2 linked regions of the Homo sapiens genome follow. The protein of the gene in region 2 purifies or fractionates together with the protein of the main gene of each other region. This does not show direct contact. Each region holds a gene or a part of one and is shown on either strand. Other genes may lie near its edges.

Region 1 (4,827 bases), on a different chromosome or scaffold from region 2:
TCTCGATCTCCCGACTTCGCGATCCGCCCGCCTCGGCCTCCCAAAGTGCTGGGATTACAGGCGTGAGCCACTGCGCCTGGCCCAGACTGGAATTTTTTAAAGCCCTAATTTAGCATTAGAAGCTTGCATATCTCAGGCAATGGTAAAAGAATTAAAAGAAAATTAGTCAATACTGAATGATAAATCAGGCCATATGCTGACATAAAAATCTATCATGTAAATTGAGACAATATTTTATACTTTTCTTCTAGTGGGAACCAAATGAAAACATATTATTAATTTTCTAGTTGCCAAATAAAAGACGAATTTTGAATGCTTCCTAAAGAATTCTTTAAATTTTGTAACCCAAATATCTTTACTATGAAAAATGCTCTTTGCTTAATTTACTTTTCAGGAGTCACTCTAGTCTACTGTTTCTGATGTGAAATATTTTATTCTGATGACTGAATTCTTTATATAACTAGAAGGAGAAATAATTGTTTACATATAGTTCAACATATTTTAAAATTAAATGTAGTTTTGATTCCGAAACTTGTGGTCAAACTAATTCTTCTACTTGTATTCACACATGTTGATATTTGGCCTGATAAGACAAAATCATAGAAGTGTAAGAATTAGGAGGCCAGGTGTGGTGGCTCATGCCTGTAATCTCAACACTTTGAGAGGCGGAGGCGGAAGGATCTCTTGAGCCCAGGAGTTCAAGCACAGCCTGGGCAACATGGTAAAACTCTGTCTCTACGAAAAATACAAAAACTAGCCAAGAGTGATGACATGTGCTTTTAATTCCAGCTACTTGGGAGGCTGAAGTGGGAGGATCACTTGAGTCCTGAGAGGTTGAGTCTGCAGTGAGATATGATCACACCATTGCACTCCAGCCTGGGTGACAGAGTAAAACTCTGTCTTTAAAGAAAAAAAAAAAGAATTAGAGTGGAAAGGGGCTCTAGTGATTACTAGCCTTCCCACAAGATTCCTATGATTTTTGTTTGTTTGTTTGGTTTTTACTTCTGGACTCCACTTGCTATGTAGTATGTCTTCCAATTTAAAAATATATATTCAAAGACATATAACTATCAACGAAACTTGTTCAGTAAGAGATAACCAATATATACAGACTTGGTATATTTTCAGTCAAAAGTAAAGAAATGGGATGTTTTAGTTAGTTTTGTCACTATAGACAAATACATAGTTTTTATCGGGACTTTTGTAAAATTGAAAATAACTTACAAGTACTATTCCCTTATCTATTAACCTAAGGATCAGGAGACCCTTGGTTGGGAATGATCCAACTAGTCCAACCTTCTAATTTTGCATATAAGATGGCTCTGAATTTAGAGGTTTGATTAATCATGAAAGGGGGAAAATGATTTTTCTCACATACATTATATTGACCAATGAGGTGATTCTAGAAAAACTATGCTCTGTGATCCAAGTAACCTGGCAAGGATAAACAATTTAAATCCAATGAAACACAACCTGAAGTGAACTATTACCACCAATGATAAAAATAAGAAATGTTTCACATTTTAATTTTCTTTAAACCTTTTTTTATTTAGAGATTTTTCTGGTAAGGAGATATACCATAGGAAAGCAATTTCACTGGCAGTGAGGTATGTATATACTCTACCAAAATACTCCTTATTTTAACTGTTTTTAACTTTATTTACATACGAAGCAAAGAATCAATGCATATCCTTGGTTCAACTATAGTATTAGCCATACTACATGAAATAAAATGGTGCTTGCATACAAAAACTTGTTGTTTGTAAAGGAATCTGATTTCAGATTAAAATACCTAATTGTTTTTGGAAAAAATTTTTAAAAAGAATCACAATTTATCATGACCAAGACACCTGCACCATATTTTCCATTCCTCACAGCACATTTATTTCAGTAATTCTGTTATGTCGGTTCTTAGCATGAGCATAGTGTTACACGATTTTCGTACATATAATCACATCCAAAACAAGTTCTAAAATTTAAATTGTAAACATTCTCATATGTAGAAATATTTTAATTGGTGTATTAAGTTTTGCTAACTGATCAAATTTGGAAGATAATATAAATGAGAACGTCTATTCTAAACTGTGTAGTGAGCATTGTTTATTAATTACATTTCTACAATGTTAAATAAAGTAAGAGGCAAACCTGTCCTGTAAGCATGTCAAATTTTAGGTAAAACATTAAAAAGAAACAAACCTGTTAACAAAAGAATGTCTTGCAATAAAGAACATTAGATTTTTAAAATCTATTATGATACAAAAATGTAAAGGGTAAATAGCATCTTTGTTGACAAAGTAGGAGGTAGCATGGATGCACCACTTTATTGTCTGAGAAATGCAACTGGAGTAAAGAATATTTCCTTACCACAAATAATTTCCAGAACTATGTACATATTTCTTTTAGAAATACTTGTTTAAACAAATCTCCCTCCACTTTTTAGTATAAAAAAAACCGTTCCATGTGATTTTAAAAAAAACACTTACACATCTAGATAGAATAGTACTCTGCCCTATTTGAGTGAACAGTCTCAAACTATGAAGTACATGATATTTAATGCCCTAATTTGAGTAAATTTAGTCAGCGGTTCTTGGTATTATACAAAACACTAAATACATACAAACAAAATATAATATCTTATTTTTCTATGCAAGTCTTGTGGGGAATAAACAGAGCCTTGATTCTGGTAACACTGCAAAAAACATAATTGTCCAATAAGTCTGTCTATAAGTATCCATGTGCAACAGTTTATTAATGGCTGCTTACATGTACTGCTCTTTTACTGAGTGAACACAGTTAACCAACAAAACTTCATAAACCTTAAAAACACATCTTCCACCCTATATAAAATATATAGACTACTTACTGTTTTAAGTATTCAATTTGCTCTGATGTCACTGTAATTCACTTTCCCCCCATTTTCCTGCTTTAGTATTTATAAACAGATAATTTAATGTGGCTTAAAAAAAAAGAATTTCAAATTTACATCCAATTCAAACTGGCTATTTAAAAGGTTTCCTGGTTCTATGAAGCTGCTTCGGCCATTAGTAGAGAAAATGAAGTTTCTGTAATGGAGGCAGGCTTTTTAAGTAGTGACGTGACTTCCACCATGCCAGCTCCAGTCCGTGGAAGATTAGCGTTTACAATATGTCGTTGTAAGTGCTTAATCCAGTCTTCCTGAACAGACAAGGGTCCTCGAAAGACTAGGCCACAAAACCTACAGAAAGATAACAATTCTCTTAACATGACCAATTCTCTTTCTTTAAAACTAATTCACACAAAATCCTAAAACATAAGGAATAAACTTTATCATATTTTAAAGACAGCAATTGATAAAGTTTCTAAAGTCAAATGATTTAATAAAACATCAAAACTCCCAATTCATATGTTTATTAACAGCTATAATAAACTCCAGTAATCTTTGTATAGGTGGGAGCATTATTATTTTAAAATTAACATCTACACATCTTAATTCACTTGAAACAACAACTATTACTCCAAAATATGTCATTCTTTAGAAAAGACCCTTCCCCAGTTTAGCATTCCTTAAATGGCATTGTGTCTATGTTTCTTCATGTGTGTTGTGTGTGAGTGTGAGTACGGAAGAAGGCGTGACTATGAGGGGAGAGAAAATGTGTTCCCAATAAGCGAGAACTCAAGACAACAAAACATCAAACCAAACAAAATTAAACCATACAAACCAAATAAACACAAGGAAAGCCAGTTTTTTTTTCTTTTTTCTGAGACAGAGTCTTGCTCTGTCGCTCAGGCTGGAGTGCAGTGGCACGATCTCGGCCCACTGCAACCTCTGCCTCCTGGGCTCAAGCAATTCTCCTGCCTCAGCCTCCCAAGTAGCTGGGATTACAGGCACCCGCTACAAAGCCTGGCTAATTTTGGTATTTTTAGTAGACACGAGGTTTCATCATGTTGGCCAGGCTGCTCTTGAACTCCTGGCCTCAAGTGATCCACCCATCTTGGCCACCCAAAGTGCTGGAATTACAGGCATGAGCCACCACACCTGGCCAAGCTACTTTAATAAATCACAGTATAATAGATTTACATTACTATTGGCTAATGTAAAAAACTTGATTCATTAGTTGTTGAAGTACGGATATTGTGAGCTGAATTAAGATTTTAAGCCTATCTCCAAAAGTTCATTTATAACTTGATTGTTGAGAATGCACTCTGCCACAAATTAAAAATCCCAAATGAAATAGCTAATATGTTTCAAAGCAAAGTATGAAGAAACTGATCAGATTTGGCAATATAGGCATATACCTGCATCGGAGAATGTAAACCTCGTCAGCACCATGAGGTAATGTTAGCATTTTCTTCTTGCTTCCAGATCTTGACCTTGATTTCTTTTGCTTACAATCTAAGGCTAAAAAGGGGAAGAGAAAGACTTAACATTCCTTATATATTTCAAAATATACATACACACATATTTTTCTAGAGAGGTCAGACAGACCATCTAAATCAGTTAGAAAAAGTCCGCATTCATTTCCCTATTCCCTGAAGCATGCATTCAACTTGCTGATTCTGTAATAGCAGTAATATTATCTGTACTGTACAGCGGTATTATCTGTACTGAAGAATACTATCTGTATTCTTCCTATACTGCCTTTTCAAATAATGCTTTACCACACCAAACTAGAACTGAGAAAATGTAACTAAATAACTTGAAAGTACTAAATTGGTCAATTATTACAATAATGGTAATCTTTACTTTTATAATCATACATAATTTTAATATCTGGTTTAATCTTATTTCCAGAAAAGTAGAACCTTTTATTTGAGATCATTAAATTAAGTTTGCATTTGATTACTGCT
Region 2 (5,211 bases):
AGGGGAAGAAAAATGATAATGCAAAAGACTGATGACCTTTTTTTTTTAAACAGGGTCTCACTCTGTCACTCAGGCTAGAATGCGGTGGTGCCATCATGACTCCCTGTATCCTTTAACTCCTGGGATCAAGCGATCTTCCTGCCTCAGCCTCCTGACTAGCTGGATCACAGGTGCATACCGCCATGCCCAGCTAATGATTTAGTTTTTATAGAGATGTGGGGTCTCACTATGTTGCCCACACTGGTCTGGAACTCCTGGGCTCAAGTGAGCCTCCAGCCTTGACCTCCCCAAGTGCTGGGATTAACTGTAACTGGTTGATTTATGACTTTTTAAACAGGATTTGAGCAGTACATTGGAACACTGCATTACTTTCATTATAATTAGGATGTTCAAAAAGCTATACAACTATAGCTCTCTACAGGACACAACTGAATGTTAAGGACTAAATCTGCAAGTATATGCTCTAAATATGATCCAGGCACATTTTTCCTATAACTTATATATATGCAGTTACAAATGGAAAATTGTTAAAAATACAGGGGAGAAGCTATGTTAACTTTGGAATGGAAGGTTTTGTTTTTGTAGAATATGTTATTTTCATGCAATTCTGTAAGTCTAAGATCGTCATCTACAGTTCTGCTCTTAAGAACACAAGTTTTATGACACGCTCGGCTTAAGAAACCAAAAGTGTCTAAAGTACTTTATGTTACCAACCAAATTTGGCTGCTGCACTCATTAAGAATGCAACTTAAAAAATTTTGGTTAACAAAAAGAGTAATTTGATTATACAAGATCTTGTATACTGAATAATTTATAATAATCTACCACTGTCTAAAAGTGTAAGAATCAAAACAGCCATCTAATTTAGTTTCAGAATTATAGATGAATACAGATAATTATAGGTGACCCAATTCCAACTAAAAAATCCAGAGTTGACAACTCCAGATATGTAGCCATGCTTGTGTCTTTCTAGTCACAGCTCAACCTACCCTTCAGTTTGAAGCAGTGTGGTGCCATGGTGAAGACTACTGATTTTAGAGCTTTGAATCTCGGTTCTTATTACTATGTGACCTGTGTGACCTTGGGCAAGGTACTCAATTTCTCTACAATAATGGACATAACAGTACTACTTCTCAAAAAAAAAAAAAAAAAAAAAAAAAAAAGAAACAGTACTACCTCACTGAGTTTTGGAGAGGATTAGTGAATTAATACATCAAGTGCTTAGAATAGTATGTGACACACGGCAAATACTTTTTACATTTATATATATATATACATATATATGATTTGTATACAAATAAATTTGCTAGTATTTGTATGGTAGTTTTGAGAATGGTCTTCACAGTTCAAAAGTAAGTTACAGATTATGGATGCAATAAATGCTTGTGTATATTTTACAAAACTCATAAATATAGTATCTTTCATGTTGATCCAAAATAGAGTTCTGCCAACTACATTTAATCATATTTGGTCAAATAGATGAAGTAAATTAAAACTTTCAAGTTTCAAAGCAGCATGTGTTACATCTGAGTTTCTTCTTAGGACTTTTGGGTAAAAACAGTTGTCATATTTTAAATTTTACAAATCCTAGGTTTGACTAGTAGGAATGTGTATTTGTTGAAAGATGACTATATCAATTTGTTTTAACGTATATTTTTTATTCATATAAAAGTTTTTTATTTCTAAATATGCCAGTGAACTCTTCTCCTAAATCTGAATAAATTTCTACATATCTGCAAATGAAAATATCAAAATGTACCAAGTATCTCTTAAAGAGATAAAAAGGTAATTTTCCAAAAGTATAAACCTTGCATGTCCATCATTTACTACGTGGCAAATGAAACATACCTCTCCAACATATTCCATGACAAAACTCATTCTTTTAATCTTCACAAGGGTCTTTACACCCCAGCCACGTCCATTGCTAGTTCGAAAGATGCAAAGCGAATACTGTGTGCCTTTTTGTACAATCCTATTGGGACAATCAGGACCACACTGACACCTTGAGTTGCATTCATAGATGGGAGTACCAGGTGGGATTTTAATTTGTTGGTTTTTATTATAAGCCAAAAGAACTCCAGCTTCAGCAGGACAACATTTTTGAAAGAAGCAATCTGTGCATGAACAACCAAAGGTAGCTTCATTGACTAAGCTGATTCCAGGAGCTGGTTTGTATTCGTTAATGTAATAGAAGTCTGAAGGTGGGCCCTCTAAATCAACAGTATTTTCAACAAATATCATTCCTTTATGATTCTTTCTTCTGTTGAGTTCATCTTGCCATCTCTGCAGAGCTATCCTTTGTTTAGCCTTCTTCACAATGTACTCAGCAATGGCAGGTTTCAAAGTTTTGTTATTGTCTTTTGGAGTTATTGCTTTGCCTTTCTTTACCTGAGATAAATAATTATGCTTGTCATTAGAGAATTGCTGAAGCAGTAACGGGCACTTCAGATTTTGCAAAGGTTCCCAAGTATTTGTAGAATCTGGCCATCCTTTCCATTTTACAAGATAATATTCCATATCCTTAAAATACAAAAGAAAATAAAATGCAAATCAGACGGCTATTTCCCAGTTTTACCAAAAATAATTAAAAATCTTAAAGAGTAAGGTATCCAATACCATTTTTCTTACTAACAGTTCAGAACATGTAGTCACAGGTTCCTAACACATGAAGTATAAATCATACAAATAAAACTATTTTTCCTTATATTACATAAAATATGGAATTTAGATGTGGCATAACATGTTTGATAAGAGGCTAAAGAGTTTTACCTGGAAAAAGACAAAGGTACTGAAACTGATGACTATGTTACTAAATGGTGATTCAGGTTAAACCCAGATGTATTTATTTTGATCATGGAAATAAATGGTCCCAAAGCTAACTCTTTATGACCTAGGTTAGTGGCTTACTTGGCCAGCAATAGATTCAGGCATTCTTAACGTCCATAACTTAATATCAAACACCAGACACAAGGGAACTCATTTCTCAACATCATGGGCACACATTCTCTAGATGTTCTAGAGATGAACTATCCAATACGGTTATTACGAGCCACATACAGCTACTGAAAACTTGAAATGTGGCCAATCTGAATTGAGATATGCTTAAAATATAATACACACTGAGGCTGGGCACGGTGGCTCATGCCTGTAATCCCAGCATTTTGGGAGGCCAAGGTGGGTGGATCGCTTGAGCCCAGGAGTTCGAGACCAGCCTGGGCAACATGGGAAAACCCCATCTTTACTAAAAACACAAAAATTAGCTGGGTGTGGTGGTGCACGCCTGTAATGCCAGTACTAGGGAGGGTGAGGCATGAGAATCGCTTGAAACTGGGAGGCAGAGGTTGCAGTGAGCCAAGATTGCACCACTGCACTCCAGCGTGGGCGACAGAGTGCGAGACTCAGTCTCAAACAAACAAAACAAACAAACAAAAAAAAAAGCAAAAAAAAAAAACCCACACTGAATTTTGAAGACTTTGTATCATACAAAAAAAAGAACACTAAGTAACTTAAAACTATTACAGGTTGAAATAATATTTTGGATATATTGGATCAAATACATTCTTGAAAGCAATTTCAGCTGTTTCTTTTTACTTTGTTCAATGTGGTTAGTAGATGTTGAATGGCATCTGCAGCTTGCATTACATTTCTATTGGACAGCTCTCTTCTAGAGAATGCTGATTTTATTTAGACTCACCCATGACTGGATTAGGTAGCAGGCACTCAAGCCACCTAAGAGCAACTATTCTAATCTATCCCTCAGACTGTTGTTGGCCACGATGCCTTGGCAACAAGGCACCATGGTATCTTGTCTTTTCACTCCAATGACTATGTTTTCCTCCCTTAAAGTAAGGCAATGCCACGTTTAAGTTTCTTTTTAAAAAGGCAGTTCCGGCTGGGTGCGGTGGGTCACGCCTGTAATCCCAGCACTTTGGGAGGCAGAGGTGGGTGAATCACTTGGGGCCAGGAGTTCAAGACCAGCCTGGCCAATATGGCGAAACCCTGTCTACTAAAAATACAAAAAATTAGCCGGGTGTGGTGGCAGGCACCTGTAATCCCAGCTACTTGGGAGGCTGAGGCAGGAGAATCGCCTGAACCCAGGAGGAGGAGGTTGCAGTGAGCCAAGACTGTGCCACTGCACTCCAGCCTGGGCAAAAGAGTGAGACTCCATGTCAAAAAAAAAAAAAATAAAAGTAAAAAATAAAAGATAAAAAACACAGTTAAGTGTGTCTAACAAATTTTGAAGTAAAGTCTCAGTAATTTTTTTTTTCTTCTGGAATAATATATAGCCACATGCCCAAGGGTAACATTAGATCATAAAATGTCTTCTAAGATAAAAAGGTGATTAAACTGCATTGGACAGTTACATTATCATTTTAAGTCTTAGATACTGAAAAATCTTGTTAATTGAGATAACTGCTTTTCCCTGAAAATTTTAAGAAAGTTTTTATTACAAAGTACAGAGGTCCATGACAGTTGTTTTAACAGTCATAATGCATTAATGACAAAAGGTCTAAGCCATGTGATATCTGCCATGTTGCTGAGGCACAAATTGGGCTGAGGGACACCATGAGGCAGCTGTGCAGGAACCAGGCGCCCACCCAGGAGTGGGCTTATTTTATCCCCACTATCTGCATCTTAATATTTTGTTTCATTATATTCTATTCAACAAGCAGTAATCTTTGTGAATTAAAAACTTTGCGGCCGGGCGCGGTGGCTCACGCCTGTAATCCCAGCACTTTGGGAGGCCGAGGCGGGCGGATCACGAGGTCAGGAGATCGAGACCATCTTGGCTAACACGGTGAAACCCCGTCTCTACTAAAAATACAAAAAATTAGCCGGGCGTGGTGGCGGGCGCCTGTAGTCCCAGCTACACGGGAGGCTGAGGCAGGAGAATGGCGTGAACCCGGGAGGCGGAGCTTGCAGTGAGTCGAGATCGCGCCACTGCACTCCAGCCTGGGCGACAGAGCGAGACTCCGTCTCAAAAAAAAAAAAAAAAAAAAAAAAAAAAAACTTTGCTTTCTTTTGAAAATTGGTCAAAAGTTTTCTTCTCTTAAAAAATGTGATTACATGGTGTGCAGAAATGCACAAAAACTGTAATTCTGTGGAAATATATATTGCGGTTCCAGGAAAAAAAAAAAAAAAGCCTAGATGTACATTTTAGTATTTGTCAAATTGAGCCCCACTAAAGCCTAAGGATTTCTTCCTCCTTTC

What was found.
Region 1: the proteins of SUV39H2 (region 2) and ZNF644 purify together in Homo sapiens (affinity purification with mass spectrometry; 3 studies listed by BioGRID and IntAct, with this or other methods). This does not show direct contact.

Annotation. Positions count from the first base shown.
Region 1 is NC_000001.11:90,913,777-90,918,603, forward strand, and holds the end of ZNF644 (zinc finger protein 644), read right to left. Parts: intron 4,379-4,827; coding exon 4,276-4,378; intron 3,215-4,275; coding exon 3,022-3,214; 3' UTR 1,528-3,021; downstream 1-1,527.
Region 2 is NC_000010.11:14,894,155-14,899,365, reverse strand, and holds part of SUV39H2 (histone-lysine N-methyltransferase SUV39H2), read right to left. Parts: intron 2,521-5,211; coding exon 1,849-2,520; exon of another isoform or gene 117-1,848; coding exon of another isoform or gene 54-116; intron 1-53. UniProt on the Homo sapiens protein: Histone methyltransferase that specifically trimethylates 'Lys-9' of histone H3 using monomethylated H3 'Lys-9' as substrate.